2 separate regions of the Homo sapiens genome follow, and region 2 is linked to region 1. A link means that fine-mapping ties the variant in region 1 to the expression of a gene that starts in the linked region. Tissue or cell type: whole blood. Region 1 holds a variant in brackets; the other region holds the start of a gene. All regions are shown on one strand. Distances are between the middles of the regions.

The links. PIP is the estimated chance that this variant, and not a neighbour inherited with it, causes the effect.
Region 2: CCT2 starts here. The variant in region 1 is fine-mapped to the expression of CCT2 in whole blood (INTERVAL, PIP above 0.99).

Annotation. Positions count from the first base shown.
Region 1 is chr12:69,509,608-69,515,970 of GRCh38, reverse strand. All of the region lies in intron 1 of FRS2 (fibroblast growth factor receptor substrate 2), which reads right to left. It overlaps SNORA113 (small nucleolar RNA, H/ACA box 113), which reads right to left and starts at 531; the gene lies at 378-531. The variant T/C (reference allele first, on the strand shown) is at 2,825.
Region 2 is chr12:69,582,857-69,588,499 of GRCh38, reverse strand. CCT2 (chaperonin containing TCP1 subunit 2) reads right to left here and starts at 3,041. Exons shown (of 16, transcript NM_006431.3): 1 at 2,976-3,041; 2 at 2,156-2,230; 3 at 1,682-1,747; 4 at 884-995; 5 at 494-570; 6 at 238-350. The coding sequence starts at 2,978. MIR3913-1 (microRNA 3913-1) reads left to right here and starts at 3,677; the gene lies at 3,677-3,778. MIR3913-2 (microRNA 3913-2) reads right to left here and starts at 3,777; the gene lies at 3,678-3,777. RefSeq lists an enhancer at 2,671-3,010.

The sequences.
Region 1 (6,363 bases):
AGCTGGATATTTCCCGGGGTTAAATAACAGTTCTTGTTTATTTCTCCTAGATATGACACCTTTTGCAGTGTGTGGGGGTGGGGGTGGGGCGGTCAAACTAAAAATACATAAACCAATATAAAATGTAAACTGGTAGAGAGGCTTAAGATCTACTGTTTACTCTAGGGAAAGCACAGATTCAAACTTAAAAAAAAAAAAAAAGACCTCAATGACTTTCCTGATACAGAAAGGGAAAATTTTAATTGTTTTTCAACCCACCATTAGAGGGAACAAAAGATTAAAAATGTTGCTTTCAGGGTAATGTGTGTGCATACCCTCTCTTCCACATGTATTTGTCTTTGTTTCTCCCTCTCGAGGAGTGGGTGTGAGTATGTGTATGTGTGTGAGAGAGAGAGACAGCAAGAGAGCGCGAGGGATGTTTTTCCCTTCCTCCCTCAGTCTCGGTCACTCTATATCCCCTCTCCTTTTATGTCAGCCTGTCTCTCACACTCAGTAACTCATTTCTAAGCACTGATATTCAGAAACAAAGCATTTTATCAGGTTGTAGTCTGAGGCAAAGTGAATTATAAAAATAGTCACAAAGTGAGAAAAAGAATAAGAAATTATTTAATCATCAGCTGAAAATAGAAAAAATTAAAGCCAGAAACTTTCAGCTTTCCTTAAACTACCTAAACACATAAACATGCCATACACAAAATCTTAATAAACATAGTAGGTTCAATCTAACAGATTCATTTACAGAATTTTGAGCTAAATGCATCAGGACAGAAAAGACATTAAAAGTCAGTTTAATTAAGTAGTTAGCACTGGCTTTGGAGTCATAGCTCTGAATTTATATCCCAACACTGCTATCACTAACTGTACAATCTTGGGCAGGTTACCTGCTCTTGGTCTATCTTTTAATCTCTAAAATGAAACTAACAAGTTTGTTGTGAGGATGACACAGATAATTCTTGTATAACATTTAGCATGGTGGCACATATTGAGGGCTTCACATTTTATCTGAAACATCAGGTGCAGTGAACATCTATTATTCTTTTTGTCTGCTTGAACTTCTCCTGCCATATGATTTCAGAAGGTAAAACACTGGTTCTACAGCTTGGAGTTCTTGAGAACTCCACCCATCTTTTTTTTTTTTTGAGACACAGTCCCACTCTGTTGCCCAGGCTGGAGTGCAGTGGTGTGATTTAGCTCACTGCAACCTCCGCCTCCCAGGTTCAAATGATTCTCCTGCCTCAGCCTCCTAGGTAGCTGGGATTACAGGCACACACCAACACGCTTGGCTAAGTGTTGTATTTTTAGTAGAGATGGGGTTTCGCCATGTTGGCCAGGCTGGTCTAGAACTCCTGACCTCAGGTGATCCACCCACCTCAGCCTCCTAAAGTGCTGGGATTAAAGGCATGAGCCACTGCATCTGGCCATCCTCCCGTCTTATAATTGCAGAAGGTTAAACACTTTCCCACATGTCCCATACATCTAGGATACATGTTTTGCCAAACACACATGTGCATCCCAGAGTAGCGAATTAGTGAGCAGAAGCAGAGAGCAGAAGGAGCTCATTCTCACACTAATGGTGGAGCAGTTTCAGCAAGGTCAAGTCTGGGGCAGAGGTGGCAGCATTTAGAGTCATCCAGAGCCAGCAGTGTTGCTGGGACAGGTTGTGGCATCCATCCGTCTGTCTCTAGATGGTACTGGCATCCTCATGGGAATTATGCAATGTGATTTGGAGCATTGTTTCTGGTTGCTTAGCCCTGAATCTGGTTCTCCAACCCTCACAACAATTTGATAAGCCACTGAGCTCTACCCAATTTCCTTTTAAAACATATTTGATTTGGTTTTTACTAACCAAAAATTCTGATTGACATCATGCAGGGGCGAAATCTATTCTCACCTGCCTCACCCACACAGAAAAAAAAAAGCAATTTTCCATCTCTCCAAAGAAACTCAAAAAGTATTGTTTGCTTTTAACCAATGGATTTATCCTGGGAAGACTTCGAATTTTATTTTTATAAATTATAGATAATTATTTTCTTAATTTAGAAAGTGAGAAATATCTAGGCAGATTTAGATTTATTTCAAAGGAACACTGTCAAGGAGAAGTGATATCACAGGAAAACAACTCTATCCAAGGAGTAGCTTTCATTGAGGTAACAAATGATTCCACCATGCCTAAAACCAACCTATGTATTCCCAACAATTTTCTTCCCAGCAGGAGCTTTACACTTGAGGAGCCCCACCCCCAAGGGTCATTTTTAGGTCAAAAAATTTTTAATTATTATCAGAAAACCATATATATTCCTCTTTTGTTTAAAAAAATAACTCAGTAAAATATCTAAATAGCAAAACTATTCAATTCTCTGTTAAAATAGTGCATAGTAAGTCAGTGCCTCATTGTCACAGGCTAACGCACACTCCTCCTCCTCTGCCAGATTTCTCTGCAGGTCTATTTTACAGTTCAGTAATGCTTTTTCCAGTGTTCAGAATGTTACAGCTCAAATCTGTTAATTTTATTACTCATCAGTAAAAATGTTGATACAAGGTTTGTGGGGAGGCTGAAGCTTGGGGACTAGTTTCCCTATTCTCAGGAGCCAGTTACCATATGGGGTTGAAACTATGTTTTAATGAATAAAATATATATATATGAACAAAATCAAGCATAGTTTTTAAAAAGGTGATTGTTGACTGCCAACCTAAAAAAAAAGAGAGTTTAAAAAAGCAAATCTTTTCAGATTAAAATTTAGGAAAAAAGAAAGAAGAATTTGGAAAGGTATATTGTTGTTAATGTACATCCAATGTATTAAAAGGTCAAAAAAAAAAAACAAAC[T/C]CCAAACTTTGCCAGAGATTTGGGGGCGGGAGGAGAAGTCACAGAATTTCAAGGTTCATGCTCATGCATTAGAGCTACATTACACCTTACAAGTGGCTGAGGCCTTGAGAGTTGAGCAACTTACCCAAGGAACTTATCTTCTGATTCCTAGCTGAATGATGTCATTAAGACATCTTCCTTTTGCCCTTCAAAATAAAGTTAACTGAAATGAAGTTAACTGAATACCATATGGCATGATTCCTGAATTTAAAATAACAAGAAAATACTAAATCCAAAGCAAGTGATTTCAACTGTTTGTATTCTTTTTAACATAACGTTCTGATTTATGATAATTCATAAATACTCTAGACCCATCAGTACAGAAAAAGCCATCAAGGAAAGTGAAAACTTTTTATAGTGTCTATAACTTCATTTCTAGGTAATGCCCGGGATGTGTTATAAAGTAAAATCATTTTTGCATATGTGCCAAGGGCTATTTCTTAACCATCAATTATAATATACAAGTTGTTATTTACTGCATGCCCTCAGAACATATACCTAAACACCATGAATTTAAGTGTATGCAACTCAACAAAAAAAATTCTTTTCTGGTCACAATCCACTCACCTTATAAAGATACCACAATCCCTTAGAAAAAAGTTCTTCTGCATTTGATTCTTATACTAAATGTAGTGTGAGCTTTCTACTCAAGGGAATAAAAGGAAAAAGTTCATACAAGATCCAGGTCTTCTTTCTTAAATGAGGCTTGCACAAATAAGTCTTACAAACTAGCTATATTTGTGTTTTATGAGAAGCCTAGAAGAAGCAGAGCTAAAAAGGTCCTAAGGCTAGCTCTGAATTACTACCCTGTTATAAAGAGTAATTTATGCTATGAAATAACAGTAACAGTCAAAATATTCCCCTCCCCCGCCAAAAAGAGATGAGCTAACAGACTCCTATTAAAATAAGGTGCAAGATCAAAAAGTACATGAAACCCAAAAGAGAACAGGGAGGGAGGGTGTGTATAAAGAGATAAAAGGTTTACAGCAAGGAAGGCAAACCTAAGACACATGTACTGCTATTTCTCGTCCTTCAAAATTGGCAGACACAGGTAACAGGTGACAGCTCTGTGGAGTCTGGCAAAGGCTTCAGAAACCTCTGTTACAAAGCAATGGGAGCTGTCAGATTAAATATAACACTGTCATCCCTGGTTGAGACTGACTGAACAAAAGCTGCAGAGAAAACTCATTAAACAGATAAAGAGTATAGAGAAAAACAGGAACAATAAGAGCAGCCAATATTTACTGAGGTATTTTTTGTTTTTAGGTTACATACATTGTTCATTTAATCCTCAAAACAAACTTCATAACTACTAACACTGTGCCCATTTTATAGATGGAAGAAAAGAAACAAGATTTACAGAATTTTCAATAACCAACTAGCCAGTCGTATATATAGTAAGAAATGGGGGCCCTAACACGGATATGAGCAGTTTACCATTCCTTTGTAATGGATCATAGAACTCAACGACTGACCTAATCCTCTATTCATCTCCATGTAAATCCACCAGTTCAGAGTTTTTTTAAAACAAAATTTTAATTAAGTAATATCACGTTTCTAATTGAAACTGTGGGAAATATAATGAATATACTAAAACTGATATTTTTATTGCTTTTATAATTAACAGTTTGATGAACACTTTCTACACACACTTCTGTACATTTTTATTCCATTTATAAAACATTATCAATGGAATTCTGGGTCAAAGAGTGTGCACACATTCAGCCGGAACATTTGATTTTATTACTACTGAAATGATGAAGAGATGATGGTCCCTTTAGGAAAACAACTGTGTCTTATTCTCCCTTGTGTCCAAAACATCTAGTACATAAGCAAGTATTCATTGACTGCTTAATGAATGATGGAGGTTTCCCTTCCCTTAGCACACAGTCTCTGAGGGGAGAATTAAATCCTGCAGGTTCTCAAATGAGAAGACAAATGATGCCAAATATCAAATTTACTGATGGGCTGCATAAAACCCTCCTCAGGGAGAAAAAAAGCACAAGTACTGGCACTGCCATTCAAAGTATCTCTATATGTTTAAAAGAGTTGGATACCTTATAGTATATTTAAAGAATACAGTATTTTAGTAGGTATGTAACACTGAAAGATACTACTTCTCCCAGTTTATTATCTAAATGGCACACTGTCCACGAAGATAATTTCAGAACATGTTCAAAGAGCTTCAAAGGGCTAAATCTTTTAAATACTAACTAGATTTTTCATTTTACATTGATTTTTATTCACAGGTACTAATGTTATTATAGCAGGTATCCCATAAAGATGAAAAACAGATTCACTATAAAGACAATGTGCAGGGTATTGAGCTAGCACTTTAGATGTATTAATTTAATGTTCACCACATTCCATGCTAGCTATTATTGTCTCTATTTCACAGGCAAAGAAACAGAAGATAAAGAAACTTGCTTGTTTCTTTGAACCAAGACATTCTGGCCACACGCCTAATCACTACACATTATTGACTCCAAGTAACAAGCAAAAGCAAATACAGTTTCTGGCACAGCTTTCAGTGGACATTAGTGATAAAGGGTACAATGACAATACGCTTGCCAGAAAATAGGGTGTTCAATCAATTTGGATGGATTATTTATTTAGTAAATAATTATTTATTATCTATCATGGGCCAAGAACTGTATCAGAATATGTATTTTTCAAACCTTGAAAACAGTTTAGGGAAGAAAGAGGCAGATCTTGTAATACAGATATCTAGCGTACAGAGACAGATGTAACGGAGACAGAATAAAATAGAATTATTCACAAGTGTCAAGACACAGAAGGAGTAATTAACTCTACCGAGGGCACTCAGAGAAGTTGCACAGAAAGGAAACAGCTCAATTGTAACTTGAATAACAGACTTTTAATGTGTCTGGCTATAAGTTTCTCTCTCAAAATCATTCTCCACAGATGGGTCAGGTTATCACTATGAAAAGTGCTGCAGCAGAAGCACAGAATATGGCTTAGGACAGCTGGCACCACATGAGGTATGCTAGGGAGAGAAAGAGGGGGCTAGAGATTGCCACAGATCTGCAGAATCAAACCCCTACAAACACAATAGAAGCCAGTGACAAGTCCATTTATCACACTTAATTTTATAGCTAACATGGCTGTTAAAATTGCCTTTGTTTGGCATACCTGTAAATTCCCAATAAATTCTTAATAAAATAAACCTAAATTTAAAAACAATAACAAAGGAATGAGGGCTGGGAGGGGAAAGGTGGATGTAAAGCATGACTGACCCTTCCTGAGACCTCGCTTTAAAAAGTTATAGGAGTTTTTAGAAGTATAAAGCCCATAAGGATGAGGAGAATTGGGAAAGACACAACAGCAAATGAGAGTCATCAACATCATTTTGGAAGCTAGAAAAGGAAAAGAATAACCTATCAAGACCAAGAAAGTTGAAACCTAAACCTGACAGGGAGAAGCCATCAGGAAGCAAGCTGATAAAGACAGAAAGTAGAATAATGGTTGCCAAGAGCTAG
Region 2 (5,643 bases), 73 kb before region 1:
CAGTATTATACTATTTGCTTTATTTGTATATTTTGATGATATATACAAAAAGACTAAAAACCCAAACTTAACTTTAGTGGCTATCTCTGGAGGCTGATGTAGGTTTGACTGTTGGAGTGGGGTGAGGCAGCAAGATGATCTTTGTGTATGCTTTTCAGTGTCCTATAGATTTCTTGCATTAAGCATGTTATGAAAGAACACTAAATGTTTAGAACAGTAGTACTTTGCTATACAAACCCATGATCAACTGCAGAACTCAACAGCGCCTCTCTTGCAGCCTTCGTGGCTTCTCTCCAACCCGCTATGATGGTCTGTGGATGAATCTTTTTTGCAATTAAAGATTCTGCTTCCTATTAATAAAGTTATAAAACAAAAGTTATAAATAGAAAATTATTAAGCACTCCTCAATAGTAAAGACAGAGGAAGTAAGGACTAGATTACCTCTGATACTCAAAAACACAGTAGGAAAAAAGAGTTGCTTAGTTGCTCTTACCCTTAATAATTCTGCTGCTAAAACGGTAACAGAGGTAGTGCCATCACCAACTTCATCATCTTGAACCCTTGACATATCTAGAAAAAGAAATTAGTTATTAACTCAAAATTGCTTCTTTGCTTACTAAATTCTCCAAAAATATTCACTACCAATCTAAACTTACCAGGGTTCCTCATTCAACAAATTATTTGGAACTCTGAGGTCTGAAATGCAACAGTTTTACCACCAACATACGGGCACTCCTGAAGCTTGTATTTTAACAACGATAATTAACAACTAGTGGACATCAATTGACAGTACGATTGGTCAACACAGCCTATTTATAAAGTTATTTCAAAAATGTTAACAAACAGTATTATTAGGTTGGTGAAAAAGTATATTCAGACTTACCAACTAAAACTTTAGCTGCTGGATTGTCAACACCAATGTTTTTTAGAATAGTGGCACCATCATTGGTTACCATAAGAGAGGCATCTCGTCCACTGCTTAGAAGAATTTTGTCCTAAAGGGAACATAATTGGTTCAAGTTAAGACATAAGCACATCTTGAAGAATGCATGGATCAATCAGTATTCTCACACAGTGCTAGTGTATAAACACTCTGGATAGCTATTTTGTGGTATCCATTCATCAAATGTTTTCAATACATACACCACGTAACCAAACCATGTATCTACCCCTAGAAACACTAGAAGCACAGGTAGACACTAGTTTTTGTTTCAACACCGTAACTGCAAAAACAATGGAAAGAAACTATCAATACAGCCATAATTAAATTATAAAATAATTAAGGTACAGGATAATATTTGACAGTTAAAGGGGCAGTGTTATCTACTTACACTGAAAGGAATTTAAAAGAGCAAGCTACAAAAAAGTATTGATAAATAGTATCTGTTTTATAAAACAGTATGTTACATGAGTATAAAATACATAATGAAGTACACATACTTCTACATAAACAGAATATTAGAAGATGTACGTGCAAATGATAACAGTACTTGTCATTGGGGAGGGGCATGGGATTGGGGATGGTGATTCTGGGGACTCTGATTTTTACTAAGGAGAACATACTTGTCTTTTATAATTAAACGTTTTAAAGATTAAAAAGCATTTTAATACGCTTGTTATTATATTTCCACCAAGCGCTCTAAAACAATATTAAAATATAAAACTTTTCTATTTTTCTTACCATGCCTTTGGGTCCCAAGGTGCTCTTTACCAAGTCTCCAATGGCGATGGCACCAATAAAAGAAGTCTGGAGTAAAAACCAAGGAGATTATCAGAATCAACTTTACAGTCTTCAAGTACAGTTTTATCTTTATTTACTTTTTTTTTTTTTTGAGGCAGAGTGTCGCTCTGTCGCCCAGGCTGGAGTGCAATGGCGCGATCTCAGCTCACTGCAACCTCCGCCTCCTGGGTTCAAGCGATCCTCCTGCCTCAGCCTCCCGAGTAGCTGGGATTACAGGTGCCCATCACCACGCCCGGCTAATTTTTGTATTTCTAGTAGAAACGGGGTTTTACCATGTTGGCCAGGCTGGTCTCGAACTCCTGACCTCAGTTCATCCGCCTACCTCGGCCTCCCAAAGTACTGGGATTACAGGAGTAAGCCACCGCGCCTGGCCTCCAGTTTTATCTTTAAAACAATGCTTAGAACAAGGCTTACCAGACGAGCTGTCTCTGCTCTCTCTTCATCAGCTCCTGCCTTAAAGATGTTAACAGGTGCAAGGGAAAGGGACGCCTGAAAAGGAAAACCAAGAGGCATTCCGTTTAAGTACCAATACTCTAACACATACACTGAGGTGCCTTCCACTAGTCTTACAAGTGGACATCTAAGAGAAAACTCATTTACAACAATGTTTTCAATCAAATGAAGCTTCCATCATCGGAGAAAGCATTTAAGTGGGAGAGAGGGACTTGTAGGAGAGCGACATGGCTTTTCGGATTTACAAGGCCCCCGGGAGTATAAATTATACACCAGCGAGATTGACAGTTACGTACAGCGAGACTAAAGACGATCTTGAACTAAGAATGAGGCAGGGAGGGGTTGCAGGCCATCAAGGTGACGCCTGCCGGGCGGGCGAGGGAACGCGGCCTCCATCTTCCACCCTCGGAAGGCTGCGGCCCCTCCACCCTCTGATGGCTCAGACCCCGTCGCTCCAGGCTCCGCCCCTAGAAGGAGGGCGGAGCGGGTCCCACACTAGAAATTTCTTCGCTCCGGGTGAGGCGCGGACCTGGGCTGCCGGGACTATGCAAAGACCTAGGCACAAGGAGACGCTGGCTTTGCGGTCCACCCCTCCCCCTCGTGGTGAGCTCCACCGGCTGGCCTGGCGCAGGCCGCACGCCCCGCGCATGGCTCGCACCATGTGCGGAGGGCCGGGGAGACAGAAACGGAGCCTACGACCCTAGCAGGACAGAGGAAGCAGTGGGGTGGCAAGAGCACGGCGGAGCAGGGGTAGGGCAAGAGGCAGGGGAGTCAGGCTCACCATGGTTCCGAGGAGTTCCGCACACAAGTGAATCCCCTCACAGCTCGTGCTCGGGACCAGCGGACTGAAGGAAGCCGGAAGTGACGCCACACGCCCTACTTCGGGGGGCGGGGCCCCGGCCTGTCGTTACCGCCAGCAGGCGTCCCATTTTGATTGGAGCCCCACGGGCCGGAAACGCAGCCTTTCACACTGGAGGGGGCGTGGCCGCCGCTCCAGAACAAAGAGGCGGCTGCCGCGCGGGTTGCCATAGAAATGGAGTTCTTGCTCACACTTTTTATTTTCTTAAATTTAATCTTTAAACACTTCTATTAAAGTCACACATGTACACAGTTTAAAGTGTTATATACCAATAAGGAAAAACATAATTTATCTGCCTCACCACTTCCTGTCTCCAGGAAAACTGCTTTCAACTTTTTCAGTTTTTTGGAGGGGCTATTTACTATCATATTCCCAGATAATATTATTGCTATGTTAATTTTAAACATTATTTACTGAGTATTACAGAAGAAGACTTCCTTTTCTCTTACTGAATTTTCAGACGTTATTTCTAACTGGACGTTGACTGCCCAGGATAAGGTCTTGTGAACTGAGAGAGACATTTATAGTATTTTATCTTTGCCCTATTTACTCATTTTCAGGAATTTTTGCATTTCGGTCTTTTTTTTTTTTTTCCTCCAATAGTAGAGACGACTTATTAGTCTTTGTTTATAATAAACTGAAATATTTGGGACTGATCTTGATGTCTGCCAAAACCTTGGCAGACATCAAGATCAGTCCCAAATATTTCAGTTTATTATAGACAGTTTTCTACTTTCTCTAAGTTGACGGATGTCTAAAAATTTGTTCTCTAAAAAATTTTTCTGTCATCTACTGATACCCTCTTTTCTCCCTTTGACTAACTGATCGCTTAAGCTCCTCGGCAGGGCGCGGTGGCTCACCCCTGTAATCCCAGCACTTTGGGAGGCCGAGGTGGGCGGATCACCTGAGGTCAGGAGTTGGAGACCAGCCTGGCCAACATGGTGAAACCCTGTCTCTACTGAAAATACAAAAATTAGCCGGGCGTGGTGTGCATGCCCGTAATCCCAGCTACTCAGGAGGCTGAGGCAGGATAATTGCTTGAACCCGGGAGGCAGAGGTTTCAGTGAGCCGAGATCACGCCGCTGCACTCCAGCCTGGGCAACAGAGCGAGACTCTGTCTCAAAACAAAAACAAAACAAAACAAGCTCCTGGATTTTTCTTTTTCTGTTTTGTTTTTTTTAGAGATGGGGTCTTCTATGTTGCCCAGGCTGGCCTGGAACTCCTGGGCTCAAGCAATCTTCCTGCCTTGGTCTCCTGAGTAGCTGGGGTCTCCTGGATTTTTGACATTGCTAACATTAACAGGAATTTTCAATTTTTTAGTTGTTTCTACCCTTCAGATTTCCTCTAAGTGGGTTGATTTCCACCAGGGGTTGGCAAGCTGTGAGGAGTCAAACCCAGCCTGCCAGTTGTTTTTTGTATGGCCTGAGAGCTAAGAATAGTTTTTACATTTTTAAGTGGTTGAAAGAAATCAAAAATTTCCTGACACATGAAAATCCTGTGAAATTAATATTTCAGTGTCCATAAAGCTTCATTGGAATCCATGGGCATACCCATACATATTTACTCTGTCACAATACGATAGCAGAGTTATGTGGCAGAGTTGAGTAGTCATGACAGGTTGAATGGGCCCACAAAACCTAAAACATGTATTATCTAATTCTTTACAGAAAAAGTTTGCTGACCCTGGTTTACAGTATTCCTCAGGTCCAACATGAAAAGGGGAGTTCAGGCTGGACAAATTGTTATTTTAAATCTCCCAAGAGTTTTCTCTTCTTTGTAGGAAAATTTGGTCTTCTTTCAGGAAATGTACTTTCCTAGGCAGATCCCAAATCGCATTCTGGAATGAGAAGATTCACAATAAAAAACTAAGATGCCTGCACAATATTGAAAAAGGTTGTTTTTATTGTGGGCAAAATTACATACCTGGAGATATTTATTATGTCCTCTGGTAGGCAAGCCTGAGACTGTGTGTGATGGGGAAACCAATGACTGCTCCCTGCTGGGCTTTGAATGTAGCCAGAGGCATTTGGATGGGGAGAAGGAGGCAGGCCCTGCCACCTTGTGGAACTGAGGCTAGAGGCAGCCAGGAAGAGACTCTATGATGGGACCCTTGGAAATGTGTCCTTTCTCCATTGCATCTTTTGACCCTTCCTTCTTTCCTACTTCCCCCTCCTTTGATGACACCTCTACACCTAGAGGCTAAACACTCAGCTTCTAGACCCAGACTATATGAGTTTGAATTTCAACCATTTTACGTACTAGCTTTGTAGTCTTGGGTGGGTTTCACAGGCTCTTTAAATCAGTTCATTGAAGGCCATTCAGAGCGTGATCAATGTGCTGGTTTACCAAAAACTGTCTCTTTTAGCTGTTTATACTTTTTTGTTGTTGTTGTTGTTGTTGAAACAGAGTTTCACTCTGTCGCTCGGGCTGGAGTGCAGTGGTATGATCTCAACTCACTGCAACCTCCGCCTCCCGGGTTCAAGCAATTCTCCTGCCTCAGCCTCCCAAATAGCTGGGACTACAGGCATGCACCACCACAGCTGGCTAATTTTTGTATTTTTAGTAGAGACAGGGTTTAACCATGTTGGCC